4 separate regions of the Homo sapiens genome follow, and regions 2, 3 and 4 are each linked to region 1. Evidence: fine-mapped expression QTL. Tissue or cell type: whole blood. Region 1 holds a variant in brackets; each other region holds the start of a gene. Each region is shown on its reference strand, or each on the opposite one.

Region 1 (5,147 bases):
AGCCCCTGGCTTGGCTGCTCTGGGAACCCTCTTCATCCCCAAAGGAAGGCCTGAGCCCAGGAGCCTGTGAGATCCTTCCCAGGCCCTGGCGCCCCTCTGGTGGGCAGCTGTCTGTACCCCTCTTCTATACTTAGGGGGGATCTGGTGCAGGGGCTTAGGAGCAAGGGAGGTGGCCGGGCCTCTGTAGTTCCTGGAGCTCCCATTTCCTCTTCCACTAAACTCTCAGCATCACCACATGACCCAGACTGTGAACCCAGGGGAGTGCTCGGTTGGGGAGGGGAGTGGAGGGAAACCGGCTCCCTCCTGTCCCAGCCCTGAGCACCAGCACTGCGGTTCCAGCTCCCTGCAGGCACTTCCTGCCTGCTCTGGGAAAGCACAGATGGCTGCCACGCCATCACAGCCCTGGGGTTGAGCCCAGACCCCCGAACCTTGACTGTCCAGCCCTGCCAGACCCCGTCAGGATCCACATAGACCCGATGGGTTGCTCTGTCTCCTTGGCTCTGGCCGAGTCCATGGACAAGGAGCATGGCTCCATCCGCCCCGCTCAGCTCTGTGCAGCCCACAGCCCTGCCTGCCCCACCTGAGGGTTGGGGCTCTCTGGACTGGTCAGGGGTGTGTGCTGTCCCTGCCACCCTGCCCCAGCTGAGGCCTGTACCTGGCAGGGGTCGAGCCAGTAAAATCATTGTCCTGCCCTAACCCATGGTGTCTAGGCAGTATGGGCAGGGCCAGGGAGGGCCCATCCAGCCTCGCACCCCACCACTCACCGTCTTGCTCTCTCCTTTTCACTCCCTCTGTCTCCTGACCTTGGGTCACCTCTTCCCTTTCTTGCTCTCACTCAGTCCCTTCTCTCTGTTTTTCTGTTTCTTATTTTGAGACAAAATCTCACTCTGTTGCCCAGGCTGGAGTGCAGTGGCACGATCTTGGCTCACTGCAACCTCCACCTCTTGGGCTCAAGCGATTCTCCTGCCTCAGCCTCCCGAGTAGCTGGGATTACAGGTGTGCGCCACCACGCCTGGCTAATTTTGTATTTTTAGTAGAGATGGGGTTTTGCCATGTTGACCAGGCTGGTCTTGAACTCCTGACCTCAAGTAATCTGCCTGCCTCAGCCTCCCAAAGTGCTGGGATTACAGGCATGAGCCACTGTGCCTGGCCTGTTTTTCTGTTTCTCTATCACTTTAGTAAGTCCTTCTAGCCCCCAGGACCCCCCAGCCCCTCTCTGTATCTGCACACATTTGTCAGTCTGTCCCTCCACCACTGTCCTTGTTTCCTCTCTCTTCCTCGTCACCCTGCCCTGACCTGGGGGGTTTGTGTCTCTCTGTCTCTCTCCGCCTGTCTCCATCTCCCCCTTATCCTCACTCTCTCTCTGTCTGTCTCTCATTTTCATTCTCTTTCCTTTCCTCTTTCTTTTTATTTTATTTGTATGGGTCCATAGCAGGTGCATATATCTACGGGGTACATGACATACTTTAATACAGGCATGCAATGTGTCATGATCCATCAGGGTTAATGGGGTCTCCGTCCCTCAAGCATTTATCTTTTCTCTGTGTTACAAACATTCTCATCATGCTCTTTTAATTATTTTTAAATGTACAGTAAATTCTTGGTGACTGTCATCACCCTGTTGTGCTATTAAATACTGAATCTTTTTTTTAAAAAAATTATTTTAAGTTCTGGGATACATGTGCAGGACGTGCAGATTTGTTACATAGGTCAACGCGTGCCATGGTGGTTTGCTGCACAGATCAACCCATCACCTGGGTATTAAGGCCTGCATGCATCAATCCTGGATCTTAGTCATTCTACCTAACCATATTTTTGCACCCGTCGACCATTCCCGCTGCCCTCCCCTCCCTCTCTTTCTCCCCCTCTCTCATTCTCTCCCCATTTTCATTTTCTCTCTCTCTTCTCATTCTCTTTCTTCCTCTCTCTGTCTCTGCCTCTGCAATCACCCCTGGTCTTCGCCCTCCCTGTCTCTGCTCCCCGGAGTCCCTGCACGTGGCTTGACAGTGGCCTTGGTAGGACCCACTGGGGTGTTTCTTCGTCGCCCATGGGCCCTCATGCTGTTATCAGTTGGAAATGAATCAGAGATTAGGAAGCGGGGGGAGTGGTGGGGGTGTTATCGCCCAGTGCACACGGGGCTCTCAGCTAATCTCTGGCGGCCCTGGGTTCGAGAGGAAATGCAGTTGCAACACTGAGTCCTTCTTACCGTCACTGTCATGTC[C/T]GCGGCGAGGCTGTGGGGGACACGGGCAAGAGATTGGAGAGGGGAGAGGGAGAGGAGAGAGGGCCTGGCCTGAGCTCCTGGCAGGCGTTTGTACAGGCTCACGTGCACACGTGTGCACACACAGCATGTACACCTCCTGGCCCTTGACACCTGAGCCGTCGCCAGGCCTTGCCTGTCACCCTTCCATTGCCTCTGCATGCCCGCACCTGTCCACGTCTTCCCCTGCCGCCCCACGTCCCCAGCCACCATCTCTCTTCATGGGATGGCAGCTCTGGCCTCATCCAGGCTCTTAGCCAACAGAGTGGCCATATTATTATTATTATTTTATTTTATTTTATTTTTTTGAGATGGAGTCTTGCTCTGTCGCCCAGGCTGGAGTGCAGTGGTGCAGTGTCAGCTCACTGCAAGCTCCGCCTCCCAGGTTCACGCCATTCTCCTGCCTCAGCCTCCCGAGTAGCTGGGACTACAGGTGCCCGCCACCACCCCCGGCTAATTTTTTGTATTTTTAGTGGAGATGGGGTTTCACTGTGTTAGCCGGGATGGTCTCGATCTCCTGACCTCGTGATCTGCCCGCCTTGGCCTCCCAAAGTGCTGGGATTACAGGCGTGAGCCACCGTGCCCGGCCCAGAATGGTCGTATTATTAAATGACCACATGATCGGGCTGCTTTCCGAACTTCACCTTCCCACGGTTCTAGGAAGCAGCCACCATTATCATGGTGGCCTCCAGGCTTGCGTGTCTAGCTCCTGTCCTTCCTGCCCTCACCTCCCACACCCCTTGGCTTCCTAGCACCTGCAGTTCTGCCTCGACCCCTCCTCAGTGCCCCGGCTTTTGCAAATGCTCTCCCCTCTGCCTGGAAAACTCTCCTCCCCATGACAACTCCCATGCCTCCTATGGCACTCGGCTTTCCTGTCCTTCATGAAAGCATCCAGGGTCCCCGAGTGCCAAGCTGCAGCAGGTCCCTTGTCTCGGGGCTTCCACCCTCGAGGCGTGAGCTCCCCCTGTCACCATCCTGCCTAGGGATTATGGGTGTAATTCCTACTTCCTGCTCACCTCCTGCCAGACTGTGGGCCTGATGGGGCAGGGACCGAGCCCTCCAGTCTGTCTAGGGCCTGGCCGCACCAGGCAGTGATTGAATGAACAGATCCATAAACACACCGAGAGACACGGATGTACCCAGGCCCATGCACAGACACACAAATGCAGTCACCAGCCATGCACGGAAACTCACATTGACAGACGCTCAACCTCACAAACGTGCAAACCAAAGTTACCTAGAGACGCACGCAGTGACCAAGACACACACACGCCCACTGTCTTCTGTCTATGCTCTGGGCTCACTGCCTCTCATCCAGCCCTGCCCCTCGGGCAGGATCCCCTGCGGGTGTGGGCCTCCTGCACTGCAGCCCTGGCCTTAGCTCCAGGGGGCCAATCCCATGTTATGGGCCCCCAGCAGGATTCTCTGGGCCCCAGCCGTGGTCTTGCCACGTGACTACTTACAAGTGGCTTTTATGCTAAATGCACATAATAGCACATTGGCATAATATCATTGCCAATACTCACAGGTACCATGGTTCACACAGGGAGCATGGTGTGAAGCTCCTCTTACAGGGCTTGTTAGAGGAAAGTTCCAGCTCAGGCAAAGGCTTGGGGTGGAGCGGACAAAGCTACAGTTTGGCCTTTTCCTCAGCAGCGTCCTGCTTCTAGAATCACCACTAAAGTTAACCCAGGCGAGGGGTTCTCTCCCAGCCTCCAGGAGGCTCCAGCTGGAGGCAAACCGCCGGTCTGGGAGAGGTACAGTGGCCAGGGAGAGGAAGGGTTTCAGGGTGGTGTGGGTGGTAGGGGCTGAAGGCAGGGGCAGCAGGGCAGGGCCTGGAGGCCAGCAGCACAGAGGGTCCCCACCTGGCTTCATTTTGGGGGAGGGGGCTGGGCAGGGTATCTGGCGGAGGAAGCAAGAAGGGGTGGCCTCAGAGACTGGCTTGCGGAGATGGGGCTGCATTCCCTGTGGAAGGGAGTGGGCCTTCACGGCTTCAAGGCCGTTTGTCACCTAAAGCAGCTACGGGCATCTTCTCTCTTCCCTCTTTCTTTTTAGAGACAGTGTCTCACTCTGTCTCCCAGGCTGGAGTGCTGGGGTGCGATCATAGCTCACCGCAGCTGCAAACTGCCGGGCTCAAGTGATCCTCCCACCTCAGCCTCCTGAGTAGCTGAGACTACAGGTGGGCACCACCATGCCCAGCCAATTTCTGTATTTTTTGTAGAGATGGCTGTGTTGCCCAGGCTAGTCTCAAAGTCCTGGCCTTAAGCAATTCTCCTGCCTCAGCCTCTTAAAGCACTGGTATTAGAAGAGTGAGCCATGGCGCCCTGCCTCTCTTAAAGATGGCTTTAACCATCACTTACAGCACAGCTGCATCCCTCCTTGGCGGGGTGGGGGAGATTCTTTCCCACCTCTCTGAGTGTCCCCATCTGGGTCCTTGCTCAGTGAGAGCCAGACTTTCTGCTATAACCAGGCCCTGAATGAGAGAGAACCAGAGTCATGTGCTGTGCACCAAATGCAGTGGGAAGACACGAGGGATGCCTCGGTGACCTTCTTTTCAAACAGGAGTCTTTCCCTGGTAACCTGCCTCTGACCTTCCATCAGCCAGATGTTATCTTCCCAAGGCAACAGTGTTCCAGAATTCTTTCTGAGGTGGCCCTGGCAGCTTCTGGGTCCTTCTATTCTGATTTCCAGTTTTCTTTTTCCATTTATTTATTTATTTATTTATTTATTTATTTATTTATTAATTATAGGGTCTTGCTTTGTTGCCCAGGCTGGAGTGCAGTGGCACGAACACAGCTCACTGCAGCCTCAAACTCCTGGGCTCCAGTGATCCTCCCGCCCCAGCCTCCTGTGTAGCTGGGACTACGGGCATGCACCACCATGCCTGGCT
Region 2 (5,147 bases), not on the chromosome of region 1:
CCTGAGGCCGGTGAACACCTGTGGTGGTGGCTGTGGGACAGCATCTTCCCCTGCTCTTTCTCTTCCTTCTTCCCCTTGGCCACCCACACCCAGGCAGGTGTCCTCCCCAACCCCAGGACACTGCTCTTGGTGTTTCACAGGCACGTGTCCTCTTTTTCTGAAATTGACATTACCCAGTTCAACATCACCTACTTTACCGGAGTACTTTGGGCTCTTTCAAATCAATTTCCGCTTCGAAGGCTAAAGATTTGTCATCAGCTAAGAGGTTCAAAAGTCTGTGGTGTAGGCTCTCCAAAATTCTGGCAGAGGTCAGTTGACCCTGGCTTTTATGAAGGAGTCTTTGGCATTCATTCATTCATTCATTTATTGAAGAAATATGTATTGGACCTATTCATTGCATGAGGCACTTTCTAGACACTGGGGGTGAAATGTTGGCCAAAACAGATAAGGTCTCTGTTCTTATGAAGCTCACATTCATGTGATGAGAGGCTGACAATAATCAAGTAAACAAATAAATGATCAAGGTGACTTCAGATACTAATAGATGAGAGGGCGATGTGACAGATAGGGTCTGGGGAGCCACCTTTGAATTTGTGCTGAATTCTATCTGAAGATGCCTTCACTAAGAGAGAGGTGCTGTCTCCATGGCCTTTGAGGCCCTCCCCTCCAGTGGTGAGATTTTAACAATCTCCCCATCTGACAGGTTCCCATGCAGGAATGAAAGACATGGAAGGGAAGAGGGGGGCCAGCTCCCTGAGTCCTGTGTCCACCAGCTGCTGCTAAATACCTCTGAGAAACTCTGCTTCTATCTAAGGGGACCTACTTCTCTCGGGAATCTCAATACTTGGAACAAGAACCTCCTAGACGGACCCTTTGGCATAATGAATTGGACCAACTGTAGGTTCCAGGACTAGAGAGCCAGCAATGCCTCCATGAACAATCTCACCCAATTACTCTGCTCAGGTAAGACCAACTGAAAACTAGAACAATACAAATGGTGGTTATTCCTGTCTTCTGTTTCTTTGTTTGTTTTTGTGACAGGGTCTTGCTCTGTCACCCAGGCTAGAGTACAATGGTGTGATCATGGCTCACTGCAGCCTCGACTTCCCTAGCTTAAGTGATTCTCCTATCTCAGCCTCTCAAGGAGCTGGGACTACAGGCATGCAGTAGCACACCCAGCTAATTTTCGGATTTTTTTTTTTTAAAGTAGAGACAAGGTCTAGCTATATTGCCCAGGCTGGTCTCAAACTCTTGAGCTCAGGCGGTCCTCCTGCCTTGACTTCCCAAAGTGCTGAGATTATAGGCGTGAGCCACTGGGCCTGGCTCGTTATTACTGTTGAATAATAGTCTGATCACTGAGTTCTTAAACAACTCCATGAGGTAGGCATTCATATTCTGTCTGTTTCACAGATGAGGCTCAGAAAAGCTAAGTGTTTGTCCTAAGATCACAGTTAGGAAGTGTCTGAGACCCAGGTCACTGTGAGGGAAGAGAGAGACCCTCTCATATTGTTTTATATTGTTTTATACTCAGTACCTGTTTTAAGGAAAAACAACAAGGAAGTAAAACCAAAGACAGGCAGTCCGGCGCCAGGCCCGAAACCAGGCCTGGGCCTGCCTGGCCTAAACCCAGTAGTTAAAAATCAACTCATAACTTAGAAACTGATGTTATTCATAGATTCCAGACATTGTATAGAAGAACATTGTGAAACTCCCTGCCCTGTTCTGTTTCTCTCTGACCACCGGTGCATGCAGCCCCTGTCACATACCGCCTGCTTGCTCAAATCAATCATGACCCTTTCATGTGAAATCTTTAGTATTGTGAGCCCTTAAAAGGGACGGAAATTGTGCATTCGGGGAGCTCGGATTTTAAGGCAGTAGCCTGCTGATGCTCCCAGCTGAATAAAGCCCTTCCTTCTACAATTTGGTGTCTGAGGGGTTTTGTCTGCGGCTCGTCCTGCTACATTTCTTGGTTCCCTGACCAGGAAACGAGGTAACTGATGGACAGCCGAGGCAGCCCCTTAGGCGGCTTAGGCCTCCCCTGTGGAGCATCCCTGAGGCGGACTCCGGCCAGCCCGAGTGACGCGATCCAAAGAGCACTCCCGGGTAGGAAATTGCCCCGGTGGAATGCCTCACCAGAGCAGCGTGTAGCAGTTCCCTGTGGAGGATTAACACAGTGGCTGAACACCGGGAAGGAACTGGCACTTGGAGTCCGGACATCTGAAACTTGGTAAGACTAGTCTTTGGAACTTGCCCCACTCCATCTAGGTGGAAGTGTGGCCTGATCACCCACGACATGCCTGCATTGGCACTTCTGTTCTGGTTTTGACTTGACTTAGATTGTGTGATACTTTGGTTTTGGTTTTGGTTTTGACCTGGCTTGGATTTCTGGATACTCTGATTTTGGTTTTGATTTTGGTTTGGTGTAAACTGCAAGAGTGTGTATGCCCTTTTTACCTGTTTTTTTGTTTGTGGCATGTGTGTGGTGTGGGTGTGGTGTTTTGTCTCGAAGAAGCATGGGTCAGGTACAAATAAGCCCACCCCACTAGGAACTATGTTAAAAAAAAATTCAAGAAAGAATTTAAGGGAGATTACAGTGTTACTGTGACACCAGGAAAACTTAGAACTTTGTGTGAAATAGACTGGCCAGCATTAGAGGTGGGTTGGCCATCAGAAGGAAGCCTGGACAGGTCCCTTGTTTCAAAGGTATGACACAAGGTAACCCGTAAGCCAAGGCACCCAGACCAGTTTCCATACATAGAAAGTTACAGCTGCTTTTATACCCCCTTGCCCCGCCAACGTAGTTAAGAGAACAGCAGCATAAGCGGCTGGCAGAGGCAAGGAAAGACCAGTAGAGAGAAAAAAAGGCCATCTATACCAATTCTAAGTTAATTTAGACTAAACAAGGTCTTAATAGCAAAGGATAATTGAAATCCCAAACTTACAAGGTTTTCAACAAAAGTGAAGTTTGCTTAAAGTTAACAGTGTAACATGTATTATGGTAACTTCTAATCTTGTGGCCTTAGACAGTCTAGTCCAAAGGCATAAAGAAAGTTTGCTTTAAAAAAAAAAAAAAGGAATGGTTATCTTCAAAAAAAAAAAAAAGTGGGGGGAGACAGAATTTATGTAAAAAGAGTGTTATATGGTAAATTCTTGTCCTGAAATAAACTAACTGGTGTTTAAAGAAAAAAAATGTTTGTAATAAGTCAGAAAGTTGAGACACATTGAAGAATTGTCGGCAAAAGTCGTGAAAGAAAAAATGTTATAAAAAAATTTATGCAAAAAATGTTGTATAATTTAAAAGTAATAAGGCCTCCTGAGTACTATTAAAAAAACAGTTTATGTGCAAGGTGTATAAGAAAAGTAAAACATACCTTTGGTAAAAAGATTATAAAGGGGCATAAGAATGTGGATTTTTACCTACATTAAAAGGTTAAAAACAATTATTGTTTTAAAAGTTTAAGCAAGTTTTAAAACGTTAATTATAAAGAAAATTCTGTGTGTAAACATATTAGCTAAAGTTAAAAAGGTATCATCCAGTTTTTCTGTGAACTGGACATTAAAGTAAAAAATGCCACAGGTTTTTCTTAAAGCATCAACCTGCTCTTTAACAAAAATTATAAAAGGTTAAAAAGAGTCTATAAAATCTTACCTTATGGTCAAACATGAAAAATTGGATAAATATGTCTACAAGGTTTTATTAAAATTCAGTTTAAAATTAATAACACACTAATATAAAGGTAAAATTTAGCTTATCTGGTATAAAAATCATACAAGAAACATTATTAAATATAAAATGGTGTTTAGCTTTCTTTGGTCTAAAAACTAATAAAAATTGGTGCTAAAGGAAACATTCATTTTACTAGAGGATCATAAAAGTTAAAGACTTAAAACAAACTTTGGCAATTAAGACAGCACGCCAAGATGCAAGTGCCTGGCTGAAATGGATCAAATATTCCATCTGCACTTTAAACAAATGCAATTGTTATGCTTGTGCACATGGCAGGCCAGAGGCCCTGATTGTCCCCCTTCCACTAAGGTGGTCCTCCAGTTGACCAGGCATGGGCTGCAGGGTAGCTATTTTCCAGGTTTCTACAGCTTGGAGTAATAAGTCATGCCAAGCTCTCTCTGCTATATCCCAAAGTCCCTGCGGGTCAGCCCCTGAGGGCCGTCCAGCTTCCGTCTCCCAACACTAAGTTCACTTCATGTCTCTCATGGCAGGGAGGAGACTTAGCATTCCTTGGAGACCTGAAGGGATGCAGTGAGCTTAAGAATTTTCAAGAGCTTATCAGTCAGTCAGCCCTTGTTCATCCCCGAGCGGATGTGTGATGGTATTGTCGTGGACCTTTATTGGGCACTCTGCCGAATAACTAGAGTGGCACTTGTGCTTTAGCCTATTTGGCTATCCCTTTCACCCTGGCATTTCATCAACCAGAGGAAGGAAAAAAAAAATAATAAGACATCGTAAAGCGAGAGAAGCCCCTTATGGGTCTTTCAACTCTCACATCTATTTAGATGCAATCGAAGCCCCGCAAGGAACACCAGATCAATTTAAAGTCCGAAATCAAATAGCTACAGGATTTAAGTCAATATTTTGGTAGATGACAGTCAATAAAAATGTAGATTAGATAAACTGCATCTATTACACCCAACAGCAATGAGCTTTTCATGAGTTGAAAAAAAGAAAAAACCCATGTCGGCCCCAGCCCTGGGGCTACCTGACCTGACAAAACCTTTTACACTCTATGTGTCAGAAAGAGAAAAAGTGGCAGTTGGAGTTTTAACCCAGACTGTAGGGCCCTGGCCAAGGCCAGTGGCCTATCTCTCAAAACAACTAGATGAGGTTTCCAAACGCTGGCCCCCATGTCCAAAGTCCCTGGTAGCAATAGCCCTGTTAGCACAAGAAGCAGATAAGCTAACTCTTAGACAAAACCTAAACATAAAGTCCCCCTATGCTGTGGTGATTTTAATAAATACCAAAGGACACCATTAGCTAATGAATGCTAGACTAGCTAGATACCAAAGCTTGCTCTGTGAACATCCCCGCATAACCATTGAAGTTTGCAACACCTAAACCCCGCCACCTTCCTCCCGGTGTCAGAGAGCCCAGTTAAACATAACTGTGTAGAGGTATTGGACTCAGTTTATTC
Region 3 (5,147 bases), not on the chromosome of region 1:
CAGCGGCGATCGCCACCATTTGACCTGGGTGCTTCTGCCTGGGAGCTGGGGAGGTAGCAGATCTGGTGCCCGGTTCTAGAGTGCTTCTCAGGCCTCTACTAAGCCGCGGGTGCCAGGTGGGGACACAGAGATGCCCAGGTCTCCCCGGCCGTCCAGCCCCCCCCCCCCTCTGAGCCCTTTGTTTAAAGTTAGCTCATCCGAGGCGGCCCCTTTGGGACCATAAGTTTGCCCTCCCTTTGTAACCTAATTCTTCTCGCCTTTTCCTTATGGGCAGCTAATTGGCCCGCGGTGTGGGGCTGGGGGTGGGGTGTCAAGGAAACCCATTTGCTAAGGGACTACCTTCCATAGAGAAATTTAATTCGCAACCCAGCGGCCTCCCAGCCCCACACTGGCAATAAACCTTGAGGGGTACGGGGAGGAAGTGGGGTGCCTTAGCAGATGGGTTCAGAAGTTCCCTTAAAGCCGGGGCATTAGATCTCAGGCCAGCAGCCATCCCTCCGGGGGGGTTCCCAAGGGGGGGACTACTGCTATAACGGCCCCTCCTGCTCCTTGAGGTTCAATTCCAGCCCCTTAAAGCAGAAGGCTCCCTCCCTCGGCATCAGTGCAGGCTCTCCCACCTCATTACTGTTCTGTGTCTTTGGGAATCGTAGAGTCTGTGGCCCCCACGTCCTAGGTGTCTCGGCACCCTGGACCCAGGCGCCTCCGAGATTCTATATCGCTTCTGACCCCTACCTTCAAGCCTGGCAGGCTCCCCGCGGAACCCTGCTGAGACCCGGAGACAATCGGGCCGTGCTTCTCCCTCCTCCACGAACAGCCACGGTTTATTTGGAGCGGCCGGGGCCGGCGGCCTGACAACTGGTAAATCCGTTTCGTTAGGCACAATTTGTCTGCAATTTGTCAGCCCGGCTGGGAAACGCTCCCCAGACGCCTCGGCTGCCGCACGGGCCCTACCTGGTTCTCGAATCCTGCCTGCTCATAAACGAATCCTAGCACGGGGTGCCTGCGTAGACCTGGAGCTCACCACCAGATGTTCCCGACCTCGGGAGAGGAGGCTTTTTCCAAAACAACGAATTTCCTTCCTTGTTTTCCGGTAAAGGAGCGTTCGCCACACACGGGGTCCCTGAACGCGGGGCCTTTCCCCTCGTGGTTGGAGCAACGCGGAGTTCAAGCCTGGCCGCCACAGAATAATTTTAAATGCCCCGTTTTCAGACAGATCCAGAACGCCGTCTACGCCTACCGGCGGCAGATCTTCAAGCCCGCGGCGGCCCCATTCTTATTGAAATCCCACTAAACGGATTCCGACTCCGGCTTGGGGCGGGGGGAGACTTCCAGACCCGGCGCTCTCCCCCACACGCACCCCAGTCACACAGGATAAAGGGCTGCGGGGCGCAGCGCGCGGGGGCGCAAGCAGGAGCGAGCTGGGTTAAGCCGCGAAAAGCCGGCGCACGGGACCAGCCGGCAGGTGCAGCCGCCGCTCGGCGGCCCGGCTCGGACGCATCCGCCGCGGTGGCCTGGGGATTGGGGGCGGCCGAGACAAAGGCCCCAGTTCGGGGGCCGGGAGGCGGGGGTGCTTTGCGAGGCTCTGGGAATGCCAGGGTCTCGTGGCCTGTGGCTCCGAGAAATGGGAAGACAAGAGGCCCGAGGCGGGCCTGCTGTGCCCAGGTAACCAAATACTCCCTCTGGTTAAAGTCCCTATAACCAGGGTTTCCGGTCTCTGGCAGGGCCAAGGCGAGCCCCAAAGGTAGGGGCCACAGGGCAAACGGACCAAGCGATTCGGGTGCCAGGCGGGCCGGGCCGGGGGCGGGAAGGGCCGGGCCCAGGGAAGGTGGAAGTGGAAGAAACTCACCGAGCGAGGCGCGGTGGGCGGCGCCCCCGGGCGGACGGGGCCTGGAGTAGAGCTGGGAGCAGGGCGAGGTGCGCGGCAGGCGGGCTCGCGGGACCTGGGCGCGGGGTGGCGGCGCTCACCAGCAGAGCCTGGGCGGCACGCCGAGCGGCCGCATGGTGTTCAGCGGACCGCTTTTGTCCGCCTGGTGGGCGACGGGGCCCTGCTAGGATGGATGTGGCGGCAGGCAATAGACAGACTTGAGCAGCGAGTCCCGGGGCGACGCTGGCCTCGCTACCTTCCTGGCGCTCACGCTGCCTCTCTCTCCCCCACCGGCCGCAACGCGGCTTTTTATTTCGACATCACTTTGCGGGGGGGCAGGGGGTGGCGACGGGGGCGGGAGCGCCGCAGGGGGCAGGAGGGTACCCGGGGCTCTGCACCCGGCCTACCAGGTCCAGCCGCCTGGCCGGCCAAGGGCCGCTAGGCACTCAGGGCGCGCACACCCTGTGCATCCACACTCCAGGCCGCTCCCACCCTCTCCGGAGCGCACACGCGCGCCCCTGACCTCAGGGATGCTTGCTCAGAAAGCTTGGGACACGTCTTTACTGAGACTCTCCCCGGGGACCCTCAGGAGCTGTGAGCACACGCACTCACTGATAATGGTACACAGACGCCCGCTCCTCTGTCTTCAACCCACTTCCAGGAGTGCTCACACGGACACGCACACATCCCTGCACATGTGCACACAGCTGTGGCCGCGAGGACATCCTCAGACAGACGGCCTGGGTCACACCGACACACATGGCCATACAATCAGATGCAACTCGGCACTCGGGCTCACACTCAGGACGCCCTCACTGCCAGGCTTGTTTAGCTAAGTGCAGGCGCAGCCCCTCTCCCTGTCCCACCCCCCCTCCAGTTCCTAACGCTGGGGGACCCCCTGAGCACTTTAGAAGTCCACTGTCTGGTGTCCCCCTGGCCCATCTCCTTGGGGCAGACTCTCACAATGGGGGAAGCAAGGAAGTGTGCAGAGGGCTTGTTCACAGAAGTGGGAGTCAGGAGGGGGGGAGAAAGTGAGTGTGGGAGTCCTCATCCCCAGAAGGCCCCTGGGTTTGTGGGCAAAGACAGTCCAGTCCTTGTGCTGCCAAAGTTCTTACTAAGGGATTCAACCAGTCAGCGTCCCCCCACCCCCACCCCTGATTCCCATTCCAGCAGATCAGGGAGAGTGAAAGTGGCCTGGGGACCTTGAGCCCAGAGGGAAAGTGCTTGGGCTTGGAAGGACTGGGAAATCTGTGCTCCCGTGCCCAGGTGTGCCCCAGAGGAGTGTTTCTGTCCCCTGGTCTTTGTGACCCCTGCTGTCCATAGGTCTTTCTCCAAATCTGGTGGTGACTATTGCATTGTGTGTGTGTTCTATGCATGTGGCTCAGAGTCTATGTCCTGTGTGCCCAGGTGTGTCTGTGTGCACTTAGGAGCACACAGGAGTGTCTGCAAAACTGGGTGTATGAGTATGTTCATTTCTTCTTGTGGGTTCCTGAGAGTTTGTGTATTGGGCAGTAGGTCACAGTGTGGCTATTTCATGACCCTGGAATTTGGCACAAGAGAGTGTGTCTGTGGAAATGGTTGTGCGTCCCTTTGGCTCTGTGTCTGTGGGGTCATCATGTCAGAGACTCATGTAATGAGGGGTGGGGATTTCCAGGTGTTTGCCCATGTGTCTGTAGCAGTGTGTGGCATGTCTATGAATGGGTGTGTTTTGGAGTGTGTGTTTGCGTGTGTATGTGCATGTATCTAGGCATGTGTTACTGTGTGTATTTTTGTTGTTGTTGTTGTTTTGTTTTGTTTTGTTTCTTGAGACAGGGTCTTGATCTGTTACCCAGACTGAAGTGCAGCGGTTCAATCAGCGCTTACTGCAGCCTCAACCTCCCAGACTCAAGCCATCCTCCCACCTCAGCCTCCTGAGTATCTGGGACCACAGGCATGTGCCACCGTGCCTGGCTAATTATTTTTATTTTTATTTTTGTGGAAACACAGTCTCACTATGTTGCCCAGACTGGTCCCAAACTCCTGGACTAAAGCAATCCTCCCACCTCGGCCTCCCAAAGTCCTGGGATTATAGGCGTGAGCTACTGCGCCTAGCCTGTGTGTGTCTTTAATAGTTTGTACCTGGGTATCTGCATGTGTCCTTGAACTGGTGTATGTGTAGGTGTGTGTGTGTGGTGTGTTGCATGTGTCTGGATATCCATGTATAATTCTCTTTATTAATTGATGGCTGTTGGGGCGTGTGTTTGTGTTTGTGTATTTGAACATGCATTTGGCTATGTGCATGTCCATCTGTCTTTAACAGCATAGGTATCAGTGTATATCATTGTATCTTTGAACTGATGGTGGGGAGGAGGAGATGTATCCGAGTGTGTCTGCATGTCTACGTACAGCTCCATGTATGAATTGATGTGTGTTGCGGTGGGTGTTTGTGTCTGCGTATCTGGGTTGTGGGCAACTGTGTATATGACTACATCTTTGAAATGCATGTTTCTGTGGCCAGCAGTGCCCTGTTCTGTGGACTGTAGAAAAGTGTGTCCTGGGTGACACGCGGGGTGTGCATCCTGCAGGATCACACACCATCCAGACCTTCCTTAACCAGCAGGGCAGGCCGCCAGTGGAGCTCTAGGGTACCATTTGCTCGGGCACTTTCTGTCTGTCTGTGGGAGGGGAGATGAGCTGATAAGGCTTATCTGCTGTCGCCAGCGCCATGCTGAATAACTGCTCTAATGAGGTGTCCTCATTGGGACCACCCGATCCCAAGGCCCTGGGCCTCACTGGGGAGGGGCATGGGCGAGCTTGTCTGAAGCACAGGAGCAGGGCCTGGGTGCCTACAGGGCCTTTTCTACTTCTGTCTTGTTTCCTTGGAAAGGGGGTTCCAGGCCTTGCACCTCCCCACCCCACCTGCCTCCTGCCTACTGGGCGGAGCTGGGCTGGCCAGGCCAGAGCTGGCTGGAGCCTTCCAGTCTCTGGTCTGTGGCCAGGTTCACAGCCTTGAGAGGGCAGGAGGTATGAGGCCTGGAGATGTGGGGCCCTCAGGGTGGGGTGGATGAAGAGAAATGGAGATTCAGTGACAGAAAGATCCAGAGAGACAAGGAGTGGGGAAAGAGATGGGAGGCCCAAAGACAGATTTTAAAAAAACAATGAGGAAGAGGCACTGGTGGGGACAGGCCTGGAGCTTGGGGACACTTGGAGACAGACAGAAATAAACAACTAAAAAGTGGCAGAAAGGGTCAGAAAGATGGGAATAAAAGCAAAGAAGGTGATAACCACAGAGACATGGACAGAG
Region 4 (5,147 bases), not on the chromosome of region 1:
AAATCCTTGATAGCATTAAAATGTAACCAGAAAAAATAGTTTTATTCCTAACAAATTAACTTTTAGATTAGTTTGAACACTAGAGGAATACTCTAAAAAAAAAAAAAAGAAATATATTAACAGATAACTCCGGGGATAAGGTTGGCAGGAAAGAAGGGAAAGGAAAAGCCTGGATTATATCCAGGTGCACAGAACACTGGGAAATGTGAGAATAAAGGGTGCATGGAGCTGTGGGGGATGCTGACAAATAGATGAATCAGGAGTACCAGAAACCATCCAGATTTGGTTCTAGGTCCTTGCACCTTGGAAGGCTAATACAAGTTTACTGAATTAAAACGTAAGCTATAAGTAGTATCTGATGAATTCAAAGTCCTTCCACCCCCGCAATAATGCCCACCATATGTAGTAGATACAATAAATGCTGGTTTATTTTCTCTCTGCAGACTAGACTTTGGTAGGTAGAAACGAGAGGTAAAGGGGCTCCACCCGCAGTTCTTCCGGGTAGGCTACTGCATGCTCCCACACACTTTCCCGCCAGAGGTCTACTGGGTGCATTATCCAGCGGTCGCTGGCAAGAAATCGTCCCTGCCATGGATAAACCAAAAAACATCCTCTTGCTGTGGGGATGTTGCTAATCCCAGGCACCATCACCAGCCTGAACAGAAAACTCAGGAGAAAAAGAACAGCATACGGCATGGAAAACCGTGAAACTAGGCCAGAGAAGGGGCGGCCGCTCTCTTACTAGTGTCTGCTGCTCCACCCCAGGGTCCCAGCCACTGAATGGCGAAGGGAGTGGGGAGCATCCCTCAGGGAGCCCCAGTAATCACCCCTCCCCTGCCTTTCCACCTCATTCCTCCTTTCTCCCTCCTTCAGCCTTGCGGGCAGACCCTGTGGGCCGCCTGGACCGCGCGCAGGAGGGCTGGGATTGCGGTGGCTGAACCCTGCGGACCTCTCCCATCTGCTCCACCCCGACCGCCTGCGGTTCCGCGCCCAAGGCTGGACAGAAGGCAGGAGAAATTTATAAGAAACAGACAAGCAAAAACCCTGGCTTCTTGTCACTGATTTTAAAGAACCCACTGAGGTCACTGCGATGGGTGGAGGGAAGCGAGAATGGAGGAATACAAGCCAAAGGGAAGGAAGGGGACGAAGGCGGACAGGGAGTGACCTCTTCCTCCAACCCCCGGGCCCGCTGGGAGCGGCGCGAGGCCAGAGGCCCTTGAGAGGCTCGGGCTGTCCTGGGGGCCTCAGTCCTCTGCCTGTACCCCATGGGGGACCCTGCTGCCACCAGGCGCCCCGCACTCACTCGACCTGCAGCGTGCTGGGTTTAATCTTCACCTCAACCTTGTAGGAGGAGCCGGTGAGCAGCTTGATGGTGCGGTTCTGGCCGAAGCGCTGCCCGTCCACCTTGTAAAAGACCGGGCCGTCATTAGGCTGGATGCGCAGCGCGATGGAGAGGCGCACGAGGCCCGGCAGGTCCCCCATGTCTGGGCGAGGGTCTGGCGCGGCGGCTCCGGGGGGCGGAGGACAGCGCCGGCTGCGGCCGAGTGGCTGGAGCGCGAGGGGCGGAGAGGAAGCGCGGGGAGGGTGAGGGAGGTGGTGGAGCTGAGGCTGCCGCTAGGAACCCGCGCCGTCGCCGCCGTCCGCCCGGGCTTTTGAGGAGCAGCTCCTTAGGCTGTGGCCCCCCTCCCCACTCGGCGAGGAAGCGGGCCCAAGAGACGGCTCCAAGGCCGCGCGCTTCCCCATCCCCCGCTCCAGTGCTGCGCCCTCCACGCACCCGAAGGCTCGCTCTGGCCCGCAGGCCGCCGCGCAGATCCGCGCAGCTGGGGGCGAGGGAGTTAATCCTGTTTACGCACCACAATCCCCTTCAGCTGGGGAAGCGGACATTTAGGCTCCTCCTAGAACAGCCCCGGGCAGGAGGAGGAGAGGTTTGGGAGGCACTGGGAAGGCGCTGGAGTTAAGCGACCACTATGCCAAGGAGCGAGACCCCCGGAATCTGGATACCGCCTCGGCCAGCTACGTGAGGTGGACACTGCTGCTCGCGGATCCGGCGCCAGCCAGGCGGGAGGAGGCTGAGGGGGGGTAAAGGGAGGCGGGAAGGGGGGACAGGAAACCGCTAGCCGGTGATTTAAATTTCAGGAAATATGAGTCTTTCCAAAGCTTAGGGGAAATGGCCGAGGAAAGGCGCAATTCCACGTGATGGAGCCACGCTGGATGAGGAATGGATGCAAGAGGAAGAAAATAACCATATTCAAGGAGCTACATCTTCTTGTGGGTGTACATTTCCATTATACGTATGCTCGTCCCAAAAATGACACATACATAAATATATGTAATGAATCACATATATTTACACAGATTTTGAAGGGTGAGCTATTAACCCTGTAAAAGGCAACTGACATGAGCCTAAGGCATTCTGGTGACAAAATGGCCAAGAGGTGGGATGGGTCAAAGGATTATTGGCAGGGGGCCATATGCGACACCGCAGAGTTTAGATTTGCATATTAAGCGTGATTAGACAGTTTTCGTGGCAGAGGTCGGTAGACAGCTGACTTTTGGAAGCGAGGGGAGACTCAGGGGGTGAGGACTATACTGGGAATGGCTTCCCGGAGCAGAGAGAGCACCTGCTTCAGCACCACCCAGATGGATAGTACCAGAGCCAGGGAGCACACCTGGGAAATGAAGTGGGCTAGTGAGAACAAATGGGTAGGGATGCGTTTCCTTGGCAGTTTTTGTTTACCCAAGTTAGACTGCTCTTTTTTAAGAAATAATAAGCTATACATATAATATATATGTAATATGGGTGTTTATTGCAACATTGGTTGCAAAAATAAAAATAAAACCTAAATGAAATGTTAACCAATAAATAAATGGCTGAATAAATTCTTATATACCCACACTATAGAACGTTACACAACTATCAAAATAATGAAATATAGGTTGCATTGGCAAACACACAGGCAAAAACTGTTAATGATAAAAGTGGGATGGCTGGGAAACAAAGCCTGAGGGCGAGCATTTTGTCTGTTTTGTTTGTTGCTGTTTCCCCAGCATGCCAAAATAGTGCCTGACACATAGTAGGTGCTCCAGAAATCGTTGTTGAATTGACTTACGGTTGTGGTCTTAATCATGTCCATATGTAAATTCTTTCACATCTTTAAAATTAATTAGATCCTTGCGATTTACCTGGAATGATGAAAAGAAATCTAATTGCAAGTAGCATCTCTAGTGTTTTAGAAAAATGAAAATTTAAAAAGAATATAAATGTGTATGTTTGTATTAGCTCTTTTAAAAGAATGAGAGAGTTACACAGTAAACTTAATGTTGGTTATTATGGTTTATGAGTAGTGGAAAGAGGGTGAGTATCTTTTTGGGGTCATTTAAAAGCCTTTTTGGAAATTTTGCCTTTTTTCCTCAACCTTTTGTTTAGCAACCCCACAATCTCAAGCCAACTTCCACCTGTGTATCAAAAAGAGCATTGGACCTGGAGGATGATGACTCCATTTTAAAACCTGGTTCTAAGGCCGGCATGGTGGCTCATGCCTGGAATCCCAGCACTTTGGGAGACCAAGGAGGGCAGATCATTTGAGGCCAGGAGTTCAAGACCAGCCTCGCCAAAATGGCAAAACCTGTCTCTACTAAAAATACAAAAAATTAGCCAGGCGTGGTGGCGCATGCCTGTAGTCCCAGCTACTTGGGAGGCTGAGGCATGAGAATCGCTTGAGCTGGGGAGGCAGAGCTTATAGTGAGCCGAGATCATGCCACTGCACTCCAGTCTGGGCAACAAAGTGAGACTCCATCTGAAAAAAAAAAAAAAAACCCACACAAAAACAAAAACAAAAACTCTGGTTCTAGCCTGGCTAGGTAGTGCACTCTTGCAGTCCCCACTACTTGGGAGGCTAAGGTGGGAAGATCACTTAAGCCGACGAGTTTGAGGCCAGTATGGACAAAATAGTAAGACTGCCATCTCATAAATAAATAAAATAAAAAAAACCTAACTCTGCCACTTTTTAGTTTCGTTATGCAAATAACTTAACATCTTTATGTTTCATCTTTGTAAAATGAGGATTAAAATACCTCCTTCCCAACATTGTGAGAATTGAATGAGGAAATGGAAATTGTTTGAAAAAAATAAATTACTTTTCAAATACGAGGTGTTACTAATGCTGGGCAATATCCATTAGGAATAGCATTTTCAGGACCATACAATGTAATGTCTTAAAATGAAATTAATAAATGTAAAAGTAATTGGAAAATTTATCATCACTGATACATATGTGCAAAGAATATGAATATGGAGTCTGATGGATCTGTGTTTGTGTTGCCAGATCTGTGGATTACAAACTGAGTGACCTTGAGCAAAGCTGCTTTAGTCTCTTGGAGCCCCAGTTTCTTCATTTGTAAAATGATGATGGTGACATAGATGATGCATATAGAACCAAATGAAATTGTGTAAACTATGCAAGAATATCAGGCCCATAGAGACACTCAATACATTGTAACTATTTTTATTTAAAAATATACTTGCTGAATATGTAGCAACTTTTAGTTTAGATTCAGGTTTGTTACTGGAGCGTATTGCATGATGCTGAGGTTTGGAGTAGAAATGATCCCATCATCCAAGTCCTCAGTGTCTATTGTTACCAATGGAATGAAGACTACTAGCCAGGGAGGGAGGGAGACAAGTAAGGGTTGAAAAACTGTTTTATGTCCATGGGTACCCAATGGTTAGCACCCACTAAAAATGAGAACATGCGGTATTTGGCTTTTTTTTCCTGCATTAATTCATTTCTTGCTATATATTTTTAAGGTATCTAGTGCTTTCAGTCTTATTGTAGATTCTTTAATTATTACCTCAGATTGGTGATCTTAAACATTGTCTGTCTAATGGACAATGCTTATTATCATTCTTTTGAAAACTGTGAAATTGAGCCCAAGTGAACGATGGACTTAGTTGTCATTCAGAGGAATCACATGCTATGGTTCAAACGATTCTCCTGCCTCAGCCTCCCAGCTGCTTGTGTTCCCCCAAAATGGCTATGTTGAAACCGAATCCACAAAGCAATAGTATTAAGAAGTGGGTTCTTTTGGAGGTGATTAGGTCATAAGGGCTCTTCTGCCCACGTGAATGGGATTAGTAGTACCCTTGT

Evidence for each region.
Region 2: it holds the start of RHEX, and the variant in region 1 is fine-mapped to the expression of RHEX in whole blood (TOPMed, PIP above 0.99).
Region 3: it holds the start of GATA2, and the variant in region 1 is fine-mapped to the expression of GATA2 in whole blood (TOPMed, PIP above 0.99).
Region 4: CNRIP1 starts here. The variant in region 1 is fine-mapped to the expression of CNRIP1 in whole blood (TOPMed, PIP above 0.99).

The regions. Positions count from the first base shown.
Region 1 is chr19:33,261,421-33,266,567 of GRCh38, forward strand. No RefSeq gene overlaps it. Among named protein-coding and RNA genes, the nearest start is that of SLC7A10, 38 kb to the left of the region's middle. The variant C/T (reference allele first, on the strand shown) is at 2,222.
Region 2 is chr1:206,051,039-206,056,185 of GRCh38, forward strand. It overlaps RHEX (regulator of hemoglobinization and erythroid cell expansion), which reads left to right and starts at 2,135. Exons shown (of 6, transcript NM_001007544.4): 1 at 2,135-2,227. It overlaps LOC105372857 (a long non-coding RNA gene), which reads right to left. Exons shown (of 3, transcript XR_922473.3): 3 at 2,405-5,147. RefSeq lists enhancers at 1-167, 1,531-1,770, 2,191-2,250.
Region 3 is chr3:128,491,053-128,496,199 of GRCh38, forward strand. GATA2 (GATA binding protein 2) reads right to left here and starts at 2,149. Exons shown (of 6, transcript NM_032638.5): 1 at 1,847-2,149. The region is part of intron 2 of GATA2-AS1 (GATA2 antisense RNA 1); the gene reads left to right. RefSeq lists an enhancer at 1-87 and a silencer at 1,859-1,948.
Region 4 is chr2:68,317,919-68,323,065 of GRCh38, forward strand. CNRIP1 (cannabinoid receptor interacting protein 1) reads right to left here and starts at 2,031. Exons shown (of 3, transcript NM_015463.3): 1 at 1,304-2,031. The coding sequence starts at 1,482.